Linked DNA regions of Homo sapiens. The protein of the gene in region 4 purifies or fractionates together with the protein of the main gene of each other region. This does not show direct contact. Each region holds a gene or a part of one and is shown on either strand. Other genes may lie near its edges.

Region 1 (4,824 bases), on a different chromosome or scaffold from region 4:
ACCACTGACCACCAAATTAATCTTTCCAATAAGTGGTTTTCATGACATTAACCCTTTCATCATAAGCCCTGCATAATTATCCATTGCACATAAGGCCAACTCCAAATTCCCTACATTGGCCTTTAAAGCAATCTATAATCTACCCCCAGTGTTGTGCCCTAACAGTCCTATTCAGGATCCTTAGCCAAAGTCATCTTTCTACAGTTCCCCAATATTTGCATAACCATCTACATATATCACCTTTACTAAAACATCCTTCCTCTACCCAAACCACTCCCCAAATACCAACAAGGCCTAACTGAATTTTGGTCAATGAGTTTTAAAACTAATGCTGTACTCATCATTCCTACCACATGACTCTTGCCCTTGTCTCAAGTCATGAAGTGCTTAATAGCTCTATTACTGACCCTTACCTAATTTTGCCTAATATCCTTTGTAATCTTATCTTTCCAATAATATACAACATATGAATTGAACAGAGTAGCTTATCACTAAATATCAAATAAAATAGAGTAATACTTTCAACTTAATCTGTTAGCATCTGAAATCACTAATACATTAAATTTCAAAAATGGTAACAAGTTTGACCAAATGCCATTAAAGGATTAAAACAACCCAGCTTAAGTTCAGTCTGTGAGTCAGTGTGCAATTGATTTATCTTCTTTGAATTAAAAGCCAAAAAAGCTTGAGGTGAGTTCTAGTCTTTGAATTCTCCTTTCTTGTGCCAGAAGCATAGCAGGTAAGCCAACATTTGAAGACTCTGTGAGTCCTAGATAACATAGGTTATTACTTCAGATTAACAGTCAGTACTAGGTGGGCATGGTGTGGGTGGTGGATTTTTAGTAATTTCTTTTCAGTAGCAAAAATGTTAGCATTGATTACTTCTGTTTTCATATGATTTCTCCACATTTCCCAAGGTCATGTTTCTTTCGTGCTTTGTGGTATATGCTTGAGACAGAAGTCTAAAGACCAAAATGCAGTTCCTCAGTATTTCAAGGGATCTTTGAGAGAGATTATTTTACCAAAACAGTGATCTGCATGCAGTTACCACAGTCACTCACCTGATAATCTTGGGAAGTCTTGGCCTGAGGATTTAATCCACTTGGTCTTGTCAAATCTACAAGTAACTCAGCAACATTTGTGATATCAATTTCAGCTAAAGGAGAAGATGCAGGGGCATTGGCCAGTGTTTGCAGGGTTGGAAGAAAAGCTTCTTCAAAGCATTCCTGATTAGTCCTATTGAGAAACAAATTCAAAGTATGTTGGCAGAACATTATTTGATGAGAGAAAAAGTATGAAATTCAAAACTACTATGTAGGAAATTCACTCATTAAGTGCATTTTCATCTAGGAAAGAGCCAAAAATTCAGATAGATAAAATCTGTATCGTTCTTGTCATTTCATCATTTATCTACTAAAGACAGAAAAAGTATCAACAACAAAATATCATTATAGATATAATTCATGGGGGACTTGAATTTGATGTCAAGTCAGATTTTTGATTTATCAGTATGACTCAATACCTGCTTGCATAAGCAAACACGGGGAAGAACACGCCTAGGCAATGTCGAAGTTGAACATCCTCTTCAGTCACAGGATTGTACCATAACAAAATAAGACGAGAAAGAATCCTGCTGCTGACCAAAAGCCCAGAGAACATCAGCTTGGCTAGTCCTTCTGCAGCTCCAGTCCTAAGTTCAGATACCTAACAAAGATGACATTCATTAGAAGAAATTTATTTGTATCTCCTTTTTAAGCCTCTCAATGTAGCCTGTCCTACAGTATTTTTACACGAACCATCCAAAAACCATTCGAGTTATTACAAATTCTTTAAAGGCAAATAAAAAGACTGTTTCTTCAAAGCTAGAATAACAATTTTAGACAAATCTAAAAGACTAGGAGACTAGACAAATGCTTAGTCTAGCCATGAAAAATTCAATTATCTTAAAACTTTTTAGAAGAACCAAAAGGCCTTTTATAACTGTTGGAAAAAAAGAGCAAAACATATATTTAAATGCTTAGGGTTTCTAAGACATAGAAAACCCTGGCCCCTGGTATTAGAGGAAGGTGCCTATCTATAAGCAAAAGCTCCATATGTAGGAGTGCAATTTGTCTGAATAATGGATAGAATGTGAACAGAAGGTGTTGAAGCAGAAGGCATTCCTAGAAAAAGTAAACAAAAGTCTAGAGAAGACAAAGGAAAAGACAACTGGATGTACACAGGCAAAACAATGAAGCTGGACCTTAGACCATATACAAATATTAACTGAAAATGCATCAACAGCCTAAATATAAAAGCTAAAGCCAGAAAACTCTCAGAAGAAAACAGGGATAAATCTTCATGACTTAGACTTAGCACTGGATTCTTAGATAGGACACCAAAAGCAGAAGCAACAAAAGAAAAAAATGAGTGTATCTCCAAAATTAAAAATGTTTAATACATCTAAGTATATTAACAAGAAAGTAAAAAGACAACCTGTAAAATAAAAGTTACAAATTATACCTGATAAGGATCTACTACCCAAACTATATAAAGAACTCTATAAAGACAACCAACCCAACTTAAAAATGGGCAAAGGACTTGAACAGACATTTATCCAAACAAAATATACAAATGGCCAAGAAGCAGATGAAAAGATACTCAACATCACTAGTCATTAAGGAAATGCAAATCAAAACCACAATGAAGTAGCACTTCATATATACTAGGATAGCTATAATGTTTTAAAAAATGGAACCTAAGTGTCAATAAGGATGTGGAGAAATGGAAAACCTTCTACACTGAAGATGGAAATTTAAAATGGTTCAATCACTGTGGAAAACAGTTTGTCAAGTTCCCAAAAAGTTAAATGACTGAGCAACACAATTCCTAGGTATACAGATACCCAAAAGAATTGAAACAGCTACTCAAACAAATACATATACATGCCATGTTCATAGTAAGCAGCACTATTCACAATAGCCAAAAGGTAGAAACAGCCCAACTGTCCTTCAATGGATGAATGCATAAACAAATCACCATATATACATAAAATGGAGTATTCGGCTACAAAAAGGAACGGAGTACTGATACAAGATACCATGTGGATGAATCTCGAAAATGTTATGCTAAATTTAAAAAGCTAAACAGAGGTCACATACTGTATGATTCCACTTACACAAAATATCCAGAACAGTTAAATCCATAGAAACAGACTGCGGATTGGTTGCTGTCAGGGCTGGCAGAAGGGGGAATGAGGAGCAACTGCTTAATGAGTAGTTTCCTTTTGGGATGATGACAATGTTTTAAATTAGATGATAAAGGTGGTAGTTGCCTTTCATTTTGAATGTACTAAATGCCAATGAATTGTTCACATTAACAGTATTAGTTTGGGCCAGGCACGAGGGCTCACACTTGTAATCCCAGCACTCTGGGAGGCTGAGGCAGGAGGATCACTTGAGGCCAGGAGTTCAAGACCAGCCTGGGCAACAGAGCGAGACCCTGTCTCTACAAAAAATTTAAAAATCAGCGGGCATGGTGGCACATGCCTGTCATTCCAGCTATTCAGGAGGATTGCTTGAACCCAGCAGGTGAGGGGTCAGTGGACTATGATCACGCCACTGCACTCCAGCCTGATGACAGAGCAAGACCCTATCTCAAAAAAATAAAATTAAGTTTTGTTATATCACTTCTAACTCAATGAAAAACTACAATCAGTATAAAAAATTTTTAATCAGTTGGTTTACATGTGTGCTACAAAAATAGTAGTTCAAGAGTACTTAAAAGAGATCCAATCCCATACCCTATCTTACATCTTCTACCCACCCAATATAAAATTATTCTAAACTATTTCTTAAAAGTCTTGGGGATAAATCTTAGAGTCTCTATATCACAAATACAACATAAAGAAATAAAAAATAACAACCCACTTTAATCACTTCATTTTTGTTTATACTTCATTTCTTTGCATATACAATTTGATAGTGAGAAATTAGGTATGATAGTGAAAGTTAGGATTTAATTAAGATATTTAAAAAGTAAAATAAAAAATGTCTATCCAAATTTAAAATCCAGTAGGAAAAATAAGATATAAAGAGCATAGGGGAGAGGAACATCACACACTGGGACCTATCAGGGGATAGGGGGGTAGGGGAGGGATAGCGTTAGGAGAAATACCTAATGTAGATGGGTTGATGGGTGCAGCAAACCACCATGGCACATGTATACCTATGTAACAAACCTGTATGTTCTGCACATGTATCACAGGACTTAAACTATAATAAATTTAAAAAATAATAATAATAAACAAATACATGCTGAAAATGACATTTCATAATCACAGGACTGGATTATTTCTTACCTCACTATCTAAGAAATCAGAAAGGAGTTTCAGAACATTCTTAGCTGTAGCAGTCTCTTCAACTTCTTTTGATTCTTGCTCATCATCACTGTTTATTTCTGTACCTTCACAATGAAGTGTTTTGATTTTTTTAGTTTTAAATGGTTCAATCCCGAACGTCATCAGTTGGTCAAAGATTGCCTTTAAAGCACTTATTTTTATTGTGACATCATCAATTTGCAAAACCTAAATCAAGATATTCCCCACCAAAAAAAGTAAATTCAGTAAACTGTTTTGTTTCTGTTTACATAAAATTAATATGTATCTTGTTTTTTTCTTAGTCAAATTTTAATGACAGTGTCTAGTCTAAAGAAAACATCACTTTTCAAAAATACAGTTAAAATTTCAATTTAAAAAAATGTTATTTTTATTTATTTGAACCATAACATATAATAGAGCTATATACTTTAAGACAAAGTTAATCTTCACAGTCAATAAAAATTTCT
Region 2 (4,824 bases), on a different chromosome or scaffold from region 4:
AGTTGTTGTGGGACCATGGACAAGTCACTTCTCTCGGAGCTCAGTTTCCCTATCAAGAAATAGCTAACAATCGTGCTCACATCATTGGTTCACTGATGACTGGATGAGATCCTGTCCATGAGGCACAGAATAGTGCCTGCGGGAAGCAACATTTTTATTTATTGTTTTGCAGCAAGAGCCTTCACCTGAGGTTCTGCCGCTCATCAGTCAGATGGAGTTAGTGCCCCACCCGGGGATGTGGGGAAGAACACATGAGAGGTGTGACAGGCTCTGTGAACTCTCAGGACCCACCAGTGCTCCCAGAAATCTTACAGAAACCCCAGGGCCTCTGCCTCAGGACAAGCATCTGCCTAGCAGACTCTAAGGTCCAAAGGTCTCATCTCTTGGGGATGCAGAGGGAAGACCTGGCTGCGAAGAACTGGCCAATGCTGCCACGTACAAGGATTTAAGACTAGTGCATCCCTAAAGAGCCTCAAGCTTGTAAAAGTTGGATCCACGAAGGCTGGGCACACAGAATTCGGGGTGGTCTACACGGTGTAGACACTTGTGGTCCACACGGTGTAGACACTTGTGGTCCACATCCAGGGGGAGAGGTCAGGCAGACATGAGGACTGCAGAAGATGTCACGATGACGCTGGCCGTGACAGTGAGCTCCCCGGTCTGTGGGTGTGGCTGGACAGATGGGGGTGAGGGCTGGGAAGAAGGACTAATGCCTAGAACTACACCTGGAAATTCAGCCATCCATCCACACAACACACACATACATTAAGGACCTGCTCTGTACTGACCTGGTCCCAAACCCAGAGCTAGAGAGGAATAAATAAGCCACAGTCCCTGTCCCCACAGAGCACATGATCCAGTGCAGAAAGCACTTGGCAGATGCTGGAACATAATGTGAAGAGATCCCACAGAGGATCCACTGGAAGCCACTGTGCCAGGCACGGGGAGGGCCGGGGAGGCTCCACAGAGGAACCAGAAAGCTGTGATGTGGAGGAAGGTCTGCGGGCCAAGTGGGGCCAGGGCACTTCCCAGAGGGAAAGGGGTTCAGGTTTGGGTTGGACCTAATGGACTGAGGCTGCTGAAGACGTGACATCAAGGCGGGAAGAAAGTAAAGCTGCAAAGTACTCCCATGGCCCCTGGGCATTTTCTTTTTAAAGAAACAAACACACGAGCTGCTGTATGCTTAGCAGCTAGCCGGTGGCAGATGTGAGCTGCCATCACTCACGGCTCCAAACTTTGGCCCAGGAGCTGCCATAAAGGCCTGGGCATTTGTACTGAGGTAGAAAGGGAGACACCTGCATTGCAGTGCCCTTTGTAACAGAAGGCCAAGACTGGGTCCACCTGACTCCCTAACCCTGCTGCAGAGAGGGGCTTTCTAGTCCCCACAGGCCGCTGCAAACGGCCATTCCACGCAGCCCCTTCCTGGCAAGAGTGATGGTTGGGCAGGGCAGAGGAGTGATCCCCTGCTGGCTCTGGTTTCAGAGCGGGGCGGTGCTGGGAGCCCATGCGGCGTCAGATTACAGCCTGACTCAGCACATCCTGAGGAGGCCAGGACAGTGAGGTCTGGGATGGAGGTGGGGGGAAGGGCCACCTTGCAAAGGTGCGAAGAGGCAGGTTTCATACATACAGGGTGGATGTAAATGGACACAAACTAGGTCAGTGGTCCCTAACAGTGCCCTTGGAAGAAAGGGAAGCACCCACCTCCCCAGGATATACACGTTCACACTTGCACTTCCAGAGACAAAACTGTCCAACTGTCCACCAAAAGAAGATCCATCCTTGGGACACCTCAGAGGAGCCCCCGGCTGACATGGCCACATGACCTATGGTACCTTCACCCTACAGAACACCATGAAGGAGCCAAAAAGAAATCCGAGGAGCGCCACGTGCAGAAGCAGAAAGAGCTCTGGGGGCGAGGGAGGCGGCAGAGCAGCACGGTGGCATGGGGCACTCGCTCCAGACCAGCCCTCCTGCCCACAGGCCTGGCTCCACAGTAAGCCAGCTAGGTGTCCCTGGGCAAGAAGGTTAACATCTCTGTGCCTCAGCTGCCTCCTCTGTAGGGTGTGGATAGTAAAAGCACCTACCTCACAGGGCATGGCAAATATCTTTCAAGTGCTCAGCCTAGTACCTGAGACACAGTATGGGCTCATCAAATGTCAGTGATGCATGCCACAAGGGGTGACACTTGTGAAAAAAAACAAAATAATACCATGTTCTGTATGAGAGTTTATGGGAATAGAGATGCTTGAGTACACACCCAGAAGACAATGTGGAAAGAAACATGTCGCACTTAAAATGCTGGTTACCTGGGTGGTTAGGAGGTATTATTTTAACTTCTCACCCAGAAAATGAGCACGTATAATGACATAATGAAAATCAGTTTCAAAACAAAGGAGGAAGAGCATAAGAGCTGATGGATATGTCATCCAGTTCCCCTCAGCCCCCCTGGGCCTCAAACCCCCTCCCCCCATAGGCCTGGAACATACTTCTCTGGCTTGGGCCCTTGGGACGGCAGACTGAGCCCAGCTTTACCTGGTGAATGATTCCAGATCCAGGCTTCCAGAAGCCCACGCCATATTTGGCACCTGCAGTTGCCAGGAAATTATAAACTTCCTGGTTGATGTCCTATTGAGACAAATCAATAATTGGGCGTTAGCAACATGGTTTGTGTCCAGGTGACCCTCACCAAGCCCTCCCCACCCCATCAGCCTCCCTTCTGACTCTGAAATACTGGCACTGGAGACAGGCCCTCTCTTAGAGACCTTCTAAAAATAATTCCAAAGAGCTTGGATGTTGGCCCAGTCTCCACTAGCAGTGTCAGAGAGAAGGACAGGGGAGCAGAGATGGAGCCCCAGTTCTGTGACACCTGGCCAGGGTGGTGGGTCTGGAACAAGTCCCTGCCCTGGTCTGGGTCTCAGTTTCCTTATCTGGAGAAGGGACTGGTCTAAATAATTGCCAAGAGTGCCTGTGGCACTCAAGTCCCCAGATGAGGCCAGCAGTGCAGAGGCAGGCCCTGGCCTAGGCGCAGTGGCTGGGTGCAGTGGCTCACGCCTGTAATCCCAACACTTTGGGAGGCTGAGGCAGGCAGATCACTTGAGGTCAGGAGTTCAAGACCAGCCTGGCCAACATGGCGAAACCCTGTCTCTACTAAAAATACAAAAATTAGCCAGGCATGGTAGTGCACACCTGTAATTCCAGTTACTCGGGAGGCTGAGGCACAAGAATTGGTTGAACCTGGGAGACAAGGATGCAATGAGCCGAGATCGTGCCACTGCACTCCAGCCTACAAGACAGAGCGAGACTGTCTCAAAAAATAAAAATAAGAATAAAATAAATAAAAATTAGCTGTGCACCTGCGGTCCCAGCTACTTGCAGGCCGAGGCAGGAAGATCACTTGAGCCCAGGAGTTCAAGGCTGCAATGAGCCGAGATCGCACCACTACACTCCAGCCTGAGTGACAGGGCAAGACCCTGCCTCAAAACAAAACAAAAACCCCAGAGGCTTTTTTTGAAATAACTTGCTGGAGATCCCAGGCTTAGACGACACCTGAGAGAGCCCCCTGGACTGGTGTCTGACTGTCGGAAGTGCTGAATTCTTGGTAATGTGTTTGATGGGCCCAAATGGAAGGCTGTCGAAGGGACCACTGTTCTGAAAAGGAGGTTTCAGCCAAACGAAATGATGACACGGGCTGTAGCCATCCTGCCTATAATCTGAAGGAAGCTTCCTTGAGGGACAGGGAAGGGCCCACTGCACAGCAGATGTGAGGCCAGGGTTTATCTGGAAGACATGGGAGGTCCCTGTGTGGGGTCAGTGAGACTGACCCCAGTAACAAAACGGTGGGATTCTAGTGGACTCTACTGAGTCTCAAAGGAGGAACTAGGAAATGGGACCTGCCAGCCTCCGGCATGGGAGAGCGATGCTTCAGAGAAGGGACCTCAGCCAGTGCCCTCGGACCCTTGATGAGATACACTCAAACCACACACCCCTTCACTGAAACTCCAGACCAGTGTGTGCCCTCTGAAGGCCCACTGGGTTCCCCCAGGTAAGAGAATGGCAAAGAACGTGGGTTTCCAGAGCAGTCTCTTTCCAATTAATAATTAATACATCAGCTTTTTCATTTACAAATCGGTCACTTATGAAATTGGTATCCAGGACAGGAGGCTGTGGTCGTGTCTGGGCGCATGTGACTACACGTCTGTGTTAAGTGTGAGGAAGGGGTGTGGGAGGACCCCAGACTGGTGCCAGAGTCTCGGCCTGGACTCAGCCTGGATCCATCTCTGGTTCTGTGACCCTAGACAGGTCACTGCCTCTGAGCCCTAGCCAGAGGGACACTTTACAAATACACGTAATAATGACCACATTCTAGGCCGGGCGTGGTGGCTCACACCTATAATCCCAGCACTTTGGGAGGCCGAGGTGGGTGGATCACCTGAGGTCAGGAGTTTGAAACCAGCCTGGCCAACGTGGTGAAACCCTGTCTCTAGTAAAAATACAAAAATTAGCCAGGTATGGTGGTGGGTGCCTGTAATCCCAGCTACTCGGGAGGCTGAGGCATGAGAATCGCTTGAACCCAGGAGGCGGAGGTTGCAGTGAGCCGAGATTGCAGTGAGCCGAGATTGTGTGTCACTGCACTCCAGCCTGGGGGATAGAGCAAGACTCTGTCTCAAAAAAAAAAAAAAAAAAAAGACCATATTCTTTCTCCGCTTAAACTGTTCTAGGACTCTGAGGATGGTGACCATAGCGTTCCCACAGCCCTCGCGTTCCTGGCTGCCCCTGCCCACCTCATACCACCCGCTCTTCCAAACACAGAGAACTCCAGCAGTA
Region 3 (4,824 bases), on a different chromosome or scaffold from region 4:
CCTCGTGATCCACCCGGCTAAGGCAGGAGAATGGCGTGAACCCGGGAGGTGGAGCTTGCAGGGAGCCGAGATGGCACCACTGCAGTCACCACTGCAGTCCAGCCTGGGCGACAGAGAGAGACTCCGTCTCAAAAAAAAAAAAAAAAAAAATCAAAAGCATGTGTTTACCCTTATTAATGATTTTTATTTAAAGTCATTGCATAGCAATATTCATTTAATGTTTATTTTTTAAAAAAATTAATGATTGAGAACTTAAATTTATAAGTAGGGTAAATTACTCACAAATTTAAGTAAAATTTGAAGCCAATATGATGGCTTCTTACATATTCTTTCGAAAACTTCATGCACATGAAAGTAGATAAAAATGGCACAGTCTTTTCCATTTAAGAAAAAGATCATATCACATATAGATTTAGGTTTTGGATGTCTTTTCATATCAGGACATAAATAACTGCCCCCATTCTTATTAATTTGGGTGCATAAATTTCCCTTTTGTGGGTTGAAGCCCTGTAACGATTTAACCAATTCCTTGGGTTTATATTTAGATTGTCCTCGTCCATAAGTGTAATTGCTGAATTGCAAGCTTTATATGCATTTAAAAATTTAACCCGGCAAGGTGCGGTGGCTCACGCCTGTAATCCCAGCACTTTGGGAGGCCGAGGCAGGTGAATCACAAGGTCAGGAGTTCGAGACCAGCCTGGCCAACATGGCGAAACCTCGTCTCTACTAAAAACACAAAAAATTAGCTGGGTGTGGTGGCAGGTGCCTGTAATCCCAGCTACTTGGGAAGCTGAGGCAGGAGAATCTCTTGAACCTGGGAGGGGGAGGTTGCAGTGAGCTGAGATCTCACCACTGCATTCCAGCCTGGGTGACAGTGCAAGACTCCGTCTCAAAAACAAAAACAAAAACAAAAACAAAAAATTTAACCCTTCCTAAATTGACTTTCCAAAGAGGTTCTACCACTTTGCAGTTCCACCGTGGAGATCAGCACTCGTTTTCCCATGCTTTGCCTTCATGGGTATCAGATTTTCCAATACTTGCCAATGTGCTAGGTGAAGAATGGTACCTCAGTTTCCTTGGTGCATTTTTAACTGTGAAGTTGAATGCCTCATCATGTTTCTCTGCCATGTGCTTGCCATCTGATCATGCACTGGTCTGGCTGTCAGAGCATGAAAGGCTATGGTTTGTTTCACTGTTAATTAATTTTCATTTTCATTTTCATTTAACTTTAATTTTATTTATTTATTGTTTTTGAGATAGGCTCTCATTCTGTTGCCCAGTGTGGAATGCAGTGGTGCAATCTTGGTTTACTGCAGCCTCGACCTCCTGGGCTCAAATGACCCTCCTACTTCAGCCTCCTGAGTAGCTGGGACTACAGGCACACACCACCAGGTAGCTGGGACTACAAGTGCACACCACCATGCCTGGCTAATTTTGTTTATTTTTGGTAGAGACAAGGTCTCACTGTGTTGCCCAGGCTGGTCTGGACCTCCTGGACTGAAGTGATCCTCCCACCTCTGCCTCCCAAAGTGCTGAGATTACAGGTGTGAGCCCCCATGCCCTGCCCAATTAATTTTTAAAGATTTTTTTTTCTAGCCAGGTGTGGGGGCTCACACCTGTAATCTCAGCACTTTGAGAGGCCAAGAAGGGAGGATCACTTGAGAGAAAGTTCAAGAGTGGCCTGGGCAACATAGCAAGACCCCATCTCTACAAAAAATAAAAAATTTAGCTGGGTGCGGTGACGTGTACCTGTAGTCCTAGCTACTTGGAAGGCTGAGGTGAGAGGATTGCTTCCACCCAGGAGTATGAGGCTGCAGTGAGCTATGATCATGCTACTGCACTACAGCCTGGGTGGCAGAGCAAGACCCTATCTCTATTTAAAAAAACAAAACAAAACAAAAAAACAAAAAAACTTTTTCCCCAGAAATTAATCAAATTGGAAAAAAGCAAGTTCAAGAATAAAAACGCAGCTGAGGTAGAGCAGTCTTACTCTCCTTTGCTCCTTTTCCTTTCCAAATTAATGAACCATCTTTAAATTTATTTGCTTGGAGGATGACCTACTTCTTTAGCTATCACTTTTAAAATTTCTTCTCTTGGAACAATCTAAAATCATTTAGTTGCCAGAAATTACTTTGTGGTCATGATCCGTGAAATGTTGAGATCAGGGATTGGAAGCAGCAGAAATCCACCTCTTGGGAAAACAATAGAGTGAAGGCTTACCCGGGATCCTCTCCCGTTCTCACGGCAAACAGCCTGGCTCTGTTAACTGGATGGTATACATGGATTTTCTGAGAAAAATGTAGGTGTTCAAAGCACAGGAAACCATCTGGGACACCGGGACACCATTAGGCACCTCTTAATACAAGTATTCATTTCAGGTTCAAAGCTTTTTGTCTTCCCTGTGATTTCTCTGTGATGTTTTTTAAATGGGGGAAACCCTGTAGTTTCTCTCTGCCTAATCTTAATCCCAGTTGTAGTAGCATGTCAGTTTCATGTTTGATTTCAAAACGAAATAAACCAAAATTTAAGAAGGAGAGATTACTGCAGTTTATTGGCTGACCATCTATTTGTTATATGCAAATACTGCAAACTGGGAGTATTGAAGGATTAAATTTTTCCTAATTCCCAAACCTGGTGGTGCTATTGAATCACCTAGAGAGCTTTTCAAAGACACCCCTACACCTCATCCTGGATTTATTGAATTAGAATCCCAGGCAATCTCAGGGTCTGGGATTCTGTGATTTTTTTTTTTTTTTTTGAGAGACAGGGTCTCACTGTGTTTCCCAGGCTAGTCTTGAACTCCCGGACTCAGGCCATCCTTTGGCCTCAGCCTCCTGAGTAACTGAGACTACCAGCTCCTGCCACTGTGCTGGGATTCTGTAGTCTTAAAATGCTCATCAGATATTCTAATGTGTGGGGTGTGGGCTCCATTACCTTAAGGGAGGGGAAGGAGTAGGCGTAAGAGCTGAATAAGGGCCAGGGAGAGGTTCAGGTCTAGGTGACACTGGGTGATAGCATGTGCAGATTTCACTGAGATTGGAACTTGTGTGGGTGAGAGGGACGGTTTCACATGATGAAAGAGTAGCATTTTCCTTCACACATCTGGAGGATAAAATAAAGGAAAATATTTCTTCCACATAATTTCATTCCTTTGTTTGACTATATTAAAAAGTGGGTTGCTGGCCGGGCATGGTGGCTCACGCCTGTAATCCCAGCACTTTGGGAGGCCGAGGCGGGCGGATCACGAGGTCAGCAGTTCAAGACCAGCCTGGCCAACATGGTGAAACCCCATCTCTATTAAAAATACAAAAATTAGCCAGTATGGTGGTGTGTACCTGTAATCCCAGCTACTCGGGAGGCTGAGGCAGGAGAATCGCTTGAACCTAGGAGGTGGAGGTTGCAGTGAGCCGAGACCGCATCATTGCACTCCAGCCTGGGCGACAGAGCAAGACTCTGTCTCAAAAAAAAAAAAGTGGATTGCTAACGGAGGCTTTTTAAAATAGATTGTGCCATTCAAGGTAAGTAGGTGTTCAGTGAAATGCCCGTATCCCTACTGAGCCAGAAGCTGTGACTTTTCGGTGTTCCCCTTCCATCTCATTGCCTCCTAAGCCCTCTTCCCTTATTTATCATTTTAAAACTTCCCTTGTGCTGAATAAGTAGACAGTAGCTAAGGGCTTAGTTTATGGCATTTGACTGGTCCAAAAATCTGTAAAGAAATTTTAAAACCTACCAAGTTGTTGAAGAATAGAGTTCTGGCTTTCTCAGCCACTTACTATTCAATCTTGATTTCATAAATATTTCTGTTTTAATTTCTTCCATTTATTTTTTAATATAATAGAGACAAGGTCTCACTGTGTTGCCAAGGCTGGTCTCGAACTCCTGAGCTCAAGTGATCCTCTTGCCTTGGCCTCCCAAAGTGCTGGGTTACAGGGTGAGCCACCTACGCCTGGCCATTTCATAAATACTTCTTTACTAGCTTCTGTACTCCAGGAACTGTGCTAGGAACTGGGGAAACAGAAGTTCAGTTCTAAAAAAGTTAAAGTTCTCTCTTTCATATATTTAGATCTTTATTCCACTAGCTACTGATGATGTCTAGAAGGAGAAATCTTAAATTCATTTTTATATGGGTTACCTATTGCTCCAGTACCATTGATTAAAAAGTTACCTCTTGTTAAAACTCAAGTTTCCATATATGCATAAACCTGTTTATTGATTTCCTTTTACTTTTAAATTTTTTCTGCTGTGTCTATTTGTGCAATAAACTGAAAGCATTGTGGGAGTGGCTAAACATCTGATCAATTATAATAGCAAGCCCATGGTTTAAAATAGTTTTATATTCTACATCTCAAGTGTTACCCTTGTCTCTTTCATGGCTATGGTGAGTTCATACATACATAAATACCAACATGTGGCTCGTGGGCATGGTGGCTCACACCTGGTGGGCATGGTGGCTCATGCCTATAATCCCAGCACTTCGGGAGGTGAGGGTGGGAGGATCACTTGAGCCTAGGAGTTCAAGATCAGCCTAGGCAGCATAGTGAGACCCCACTGCTACAAAAAATTTAAAAATTAGCCGGGTGTGGTGGCACATGCCTGTAATTCCAGCTAGTTGGGAGGCTGAGGTGGGAAGATCACTAGAGCCCGGGAAGTTGAAGCTGCAGAGACCCTGTCTCAAAAAAATAAATAAATAGGCTGGGCGTTGTGGCTCACGCGTGTAATCCCAGCATTTGGGAGGCTGAGGCAGGTGGATCATTTGAGGTCAGGAGTTTGAGACCAGTCTGACCAACATGGTGAAACTCCGCTTTACTAAAAATACAAAAAAGT
Region 4 (5,257 bases):
GAGCAAGACTCTGTTTCAAAACAAACAAATCCTGGAATTCATCAAAGCATGATCTAAATTCTGTTTCTTTCTTTCTTTCTTTCTTTTTTTTTTTTGAGGCAGAGTCTCACTTTGTAGCCCAGGCTGGAGTGAAGTGGTATGATCTTGGCTTACTGCAACTTCCGCCTCCCAGGTTCAAGCAATCCTCCCACCTCACTCTCCCCGTAGCTGGGACTACAGACGTGCACCACCAGACTTGGCTAATTTTTTGTATTTTTTGGTAGAGACAGGGTTTTCCCATGTTGACCAGGCTGGTCTCGAACTCCTGACCTCAGGTGATCTGCCTGCCCTGGCTCCCAAAGTGCTGGATTAAGGCATGAGCCACCGCTCCCGGCCTAAATGCTGTTTCTTCTATCAAGTCATCCCTGACTGTACCAGCTGGAAGTAATCTCTTCCTCTGAATTTCCACGCACTTTATCGGTTACTCTCTCATGTTACTTAACACATTCTGCCTCATATTACAGTTATTTGTGTTTGTGTCTTATCCCTATTAAGCTTCTTGTAGGCAGAATGCTAGCCTGTGTCATCTTAATTCTCAGAAAGCATGTTGTATGTATAGTAGATGTTCGATAAATAATTACTCAGTTAATTCTTATAATATCGCAAAAATGGAGATTACCAGTACCTATAATTAGTTTTTGAACATGCTCATCAGTAAAGTGGATGGGCCAGGTGCAGTGGCTCACTCCTGTAATCCCAACACTTTGGAGGCCAAGGCGCGCAGATGACTTGAGGCCAGGAGTTGGAGACCAGCCTGCCCAACATGGCAAAACCCTGTCTCTATTAAAAATAGAAAAATTAGCCAGGCTTGGTGGTGCTGGCCTGTGCCTGTAGTCCCAGTTACTCAGGAGGCTGAGGCATGAGAATTGCTTGAACTCAGGAGGCAGAGCTTGCAGTGAGCCAAGATGGCACCACTGCACTCCAGCCTGGACTACAGAGTGAGACACTCTCTCAAAAAATAAATAAATAAATAAATAAATAAATAAATAAATAAATAAATAAATAAAGTGGATAGTAACATACACCTTTTTGTTCCTTTTTCCCTCTCAAGTTGCTTTTGATGTTTTTACCTAAATTTTACTTGTATGGTATAGAGGTGTTTTTAACTCCAGTTGGAAACCTAAGAACTACCCTTGAGCCTGTAAACATTGTTTCTAACAGGTTTATTATTAGATATGGGGTTTCTATTAAATGCAGCATGTTTATATAGGTCTGAAGTTTTGGTCTGAGCTGTCCTTTCTTTAGGTGTTCATTTGATTTGTCTTATTTCTTCAAAACCTCATAAAATTCTAACATAGAGGACCATGACTTCCTAGAGCTATGACTCTCAACCTTTTAGGGATAGGAGGCTCTACAGGGATTACATTTACAATATGCTCCCATTTATTAATAATATTTCTCATCGCATGAGGGGATTTTCTATGGGCCATTTGAAATAACTTCTCTAGAGGATCGATGCATTCCCTGAAACTGTATGTAAAATTTTGGGGGGAGAGTCAATATTCATTATTTGAATATCAAAATATTGACAAAGGCAAAAATCCATTGCCTTGGCCGGATGCTGTGGCTCACACTTGTAATCCCAGCACTTTGGGAGGCTGAGGTGTGCGGATCACTTTAGCCCAGGAATTTGTAGCCTGGGCAACATGGCAAAACCCCGTCTCTCTTTTTTTTTTTTTTTTTTTTTTTTTTTTTTTTAATAAAAAAAGAAAAATCCATTACCTTGAAGTGGCATAAATTTTTTTCATGAGATGCATGTTTATTATTACTAATGGTGCTGTTTTACATCATGAATATATGTGCTACAAGTTGTATAGCACTTCTGAAGTACAGTTTCATTATAGTCATTTGGCCCTCATAATAGCTTGTAAGGTCATTAGATAATGCTGCATTTTATAGGAAAAGAAACGAGGTTAAGAGAGGTTGGGTAACTGAAGGTCAGGCAGATAGTAAATAGAAGAACAAAACTAGAAAATAGATTTTCTCACTCCCAGTCATTTAGTTTTTCTAATATCAGCTTGGTTCTTTGCAAATTTGGGACACTAGTTCTAAGTCTTTAGGAAAAGGAGAAACCAATGTGAAATGATCCCAAATATAAGGGAATTCCCTACTTTTCTGATGAAACTATTAAGAAGGAAAGCTTTTTGCCAATTGTATAAACTTTTTAAAATGCAGCCAAAATAGGCCGGGCGGTGGCTCATGCCTGTAATCTCAGCACTTTGGGAGGCCGAGGTGGGCAGATCACCCGAGGTCAGGCATTTGAGACCAGCCTGGCCAACCAACATGGTGAAACCCCATCTCTACTAGAAATACAAAAAAAAAAAAAAAAATTAGCCGGGCGTGGTGGCAGGCGCCTGTAATCCCAGCTACTCGGGAGGCTGAGACAGGAGAATCACTTGAACCTGGGAGGTGGAGGTTTCAGTGAGCGGAGATCTTGCCATTGCACTCCAGCCTGGGCAACAAGAGCAAAACTCCATCTTAAAAAAAAAAAAGGTAGCAAAAATAGTCAAATATGTTCTTAAAATAGTTAATAATTCACTTATATGTATATGTTTTAAATAAATAAAGTTTAATTTAGAAATAATTACTTTTTTCCATTTTCATATTAATAAAACAATTTTTTCTAGATTCTTTATGAACATCATGTCATCACTGGGGCCACTTTTTGAATCATCAGTTTGGTATTTAGCAGTTTTGAATCCATGTGTGATATATTGGCAGTTTGGGAAATTTTATCCCAAGTCATAAAAACCCATTTATATAATATTAGGATAGTTGCTTTTAAAAGGAATATTTTGTAACTGATATTCAACACATGAAATTGTGAGTTCTGGCTAGGCGTGGTGACTCATGCTTGTAATCCCAGCACTTTGGGAGGCCAAGGTGGGCTGATCACTTGAGTCCAGAAGTTCAAGACCAGCCTGGGCAACATGGTGAAACCCCACTTCTACCGAAAATACAAAAATTTGCCAGGCATGATGGCACCTGCCTATAGTCCCAGCTCCTTTCAGGGGGCTGAGGCAGGAGGATTGTTCAAGCCCAGAAGTTGAGGCTACGGTGAGCCAAGATTGCACCATTACAGTCCAGCTTAGGTGACAAAGTGAGACCCTGTCTCCAAAAAAAAAGAAAGAAATTGTGAATTCTGATCCTCAGGATAATTACTAAATCCAGTGACCTTTTGTTAGTACTACATGCAAAACTAGCGTAGTTTGAAGATAAGATGTATCCCAGACAATTATTTTAGTTCAATATAAAGTCATTGAGGGAGCACCTTTAATATGAGAGACTATGGAAGGATTCAAAACTACACAACTCTTTTTTAAAAATATATAAGTATTCCTTACATAAAAATATATTACCATGATAGCATATTTTCACACCTAAAAAATTAGCAATAATTTTTAATATTATCAATTATTCAGTCACTGTTCAAATTTGATTTATACATTGTGATTGATTGACATGTCTAAGTCTCTTAATGTGTTTGTATTTTTAGTAGAGATGGGGTTTCACCATGTTGGTCAGGCTGGTCTCGAACTCCTGACCTCAAGTAATCCACTCGCTTTGGCCTCCCAAAGTGCTGAGTTTACAGGTGTGAGCCACTGTGCCCGTGAAAGTCAGTATTCTATTACTTGTCATGTCAGCTGGTCGTGGTAGTTCACGCCTATAATCCCAGCACTTTGGGAGGCCAAGGCAGGAGGATCGCTTGAACCCAGGAGTTCAAGACCAGCCTGGGAAACATAGCGAGATACTGTCTCTACTAAAAGCTTTTTAAAAATTAGCGAGGCTTGGTGGCACACACTTGTAGTCCCAGCCACTCAGGATTTCTTGAGCCCAGGAGTTTGAGGTTGTAGTGAGCTGTGGTCTTGCCATTGCACTCCGGCATGGGTGACAGAGTGAGACCCTGTCTTAAAAATAATACTACTACTAGTCATGTCACTAAATAAATATGTCATTCTATGGAACATTTCCTGAGATGCTGAGAAAACAGATGTGAAGAAATAATTAGTACTTACTTATGCATATGTTCCTGGCAGGTGCTGTTGGCAGCAGCGGTCTGCACAAAAGCAGGAAAGGCTATTGTTTCTCGACAGTTTGTGGAAATGACCCGAACTCGGATTGAGGGCTTATTAGCAGCTTTTCCAAAGCTCATGAACACTGGAAAACAACATACGTTTGTTGAAACAGAGAGTGTAAGATATGTCTACCAGCCTATGGAGAAACTGTATATGGTACTGATCACTACCAAAAACAGCAACATTTTAGAAGATTTGGAGACCCTAAGGCTCTTCTCAAGAGTGGTAAGAGTACTGCTATAATACTGGGTTCCACTTTTTGTTTTACATTTTATGTGAAACTAGTTTTTCCTCCAAAGCAGCTGATGCTAACCAGTTTGCAGGTTCCTACTCCGCACCCCAGCGACTTATTGCTGCAGCACCTTGTTTATTCAGCAGACATTTATTGGGTGTCCTCTTAGACTATAGATGTCTCAAAAGAATATGGGAACTACTGTTTCATTTCCCAGTTCTTAAGCAGTTGTTCTAATCTGCCGTTCTAGTTCTGACACTTGTTTGGCTATGCTTTTTAGGTAATGTTTTTTAGGTAAGACTTACTGATCCAGAGACAGACACACACACACACACCCCTCTTCTAAGACTTTATGCCAAAGTCTTGCTTAAAATGAAGACTTAGGTAAGACTTACTGATCCAGAGACAGACAGACAGACAGACACACACACACACACACACACACACACACCTTTTAAGACTTTATGCCAAAGTCTTGCTTAAAATGAAGGCTAAGGCCAGGTGCGGTAGCATGTGCCTGTAGTCCAAGCTACTCAGGAGGCTGAGGCAGAAGGATTGCTTGAGGCCAGGAGTTCAAGTGCACAGGCATTATACTTTAGTGTGGGCAACACAGCAAGACCCTGATTCTTTTTTTTTTAAAGACGGAGTCTCGCTCTTGCCCTGGCTGGAGTGCAGTGGTGCAATGGTGCAATCTCGGCTCACTGCAACCTCCACCTCCCAGGTTCAAGCAATTTTCTGGCCTCAGCCTCCCGAGTAGTTGAGATTACAGATGTGCATCGCCATGCCTGGCTAATTTTTGTACGGGGTTTCACCATGTTGGCCAGGCTGGTCTCGAACTCCTGACCTCAGGTGATCTGCCTATCTTGGCGTCCCGAAGTGCTGGGATTACAGGCATGAGCCGCTGCACCCG

Evidence for each region. The genes of interacting proteins can lie anywhere in the genome.
Region 1: the proteins of ARCN1 (region 4) and NCAPG fractionate together in Homo sapiens (co-fractionation; one large-scale study listed by BioGRID). This does not show direct contact.
Region 2: the proteins of ARCN1 (region 4) and ACO2 fractionate together in Homo sapiens (co-fractionation; one large-scale study listed by BioGRID). This does not show direct contact.
Region 3: the proteins of ARCN1 (region 4) and AKAP12 fractionate together in Homo sapiens (co-fractionation; one large-scale study listed by BioGRID). This does not show direct contact.

Annotation. Positions count from the first base shown.
Region 1 is NC_000004.12:17,834,039-17,838,862, reverse strand, and holds part of NCAPG (condensin complex subunit 3), read right to left. Parts: intron 4,565-4,824; coding exon 4,340-4,564; intron 1,705-4,339; coding exon 1,523-1,704; intron 1,237-1,522; coding exon 1,062-1,236; intron 1-1,061. UniProt on the Homo sapiens protein: Regulatory subunit of the condensin complex, a complex required for conversion of interphase chromatin into mitotic-like condense chromosomes.
Region 2 is NC_000022.11:41,509,677-41,514,500, reverse strand, and holds part of ACO2 (aconitate hydratase, mitochondrial precursor), read right to left. Parts: intron 2,626-4,824; coding exon 2,533-2,625; intron 1-2,532. UniProt on the Homo sapiens protein: Catalyzes the isomerization of citrate to isocitrate via cis-aconitate.
Region 3 is NC_000006.12:151,245,527-151,250,350, forward strand, and holds part of AKAP12 (A-kinase anchor protein 12), read left to right. Parts: intron 1-4,824. UniProt on the Homo sapiens protein: Anchoring protein that mediates the subcellular compartmentation of protein kinase A (PKA) and protein kinase C (PKC).
Region 4 is NC_000011.10:118,577,170-118,582,426, forward strand, and holds part of ARCN1 (coatomer subunit delta), read left to right. Parts: intron 1-4,076; coding exon 4,077-4,340; intron 4,341-5,257. UniProt on the Homo sapiens protein: Component of the coatomer, a cytosolic protein complex that binds to dilysine motifs and reversibly associates with Golgi non-clathrin-coated vesicles, which further mediate biosynthetic protein transport from the ER, via the Golgi up to the trans Golgi network.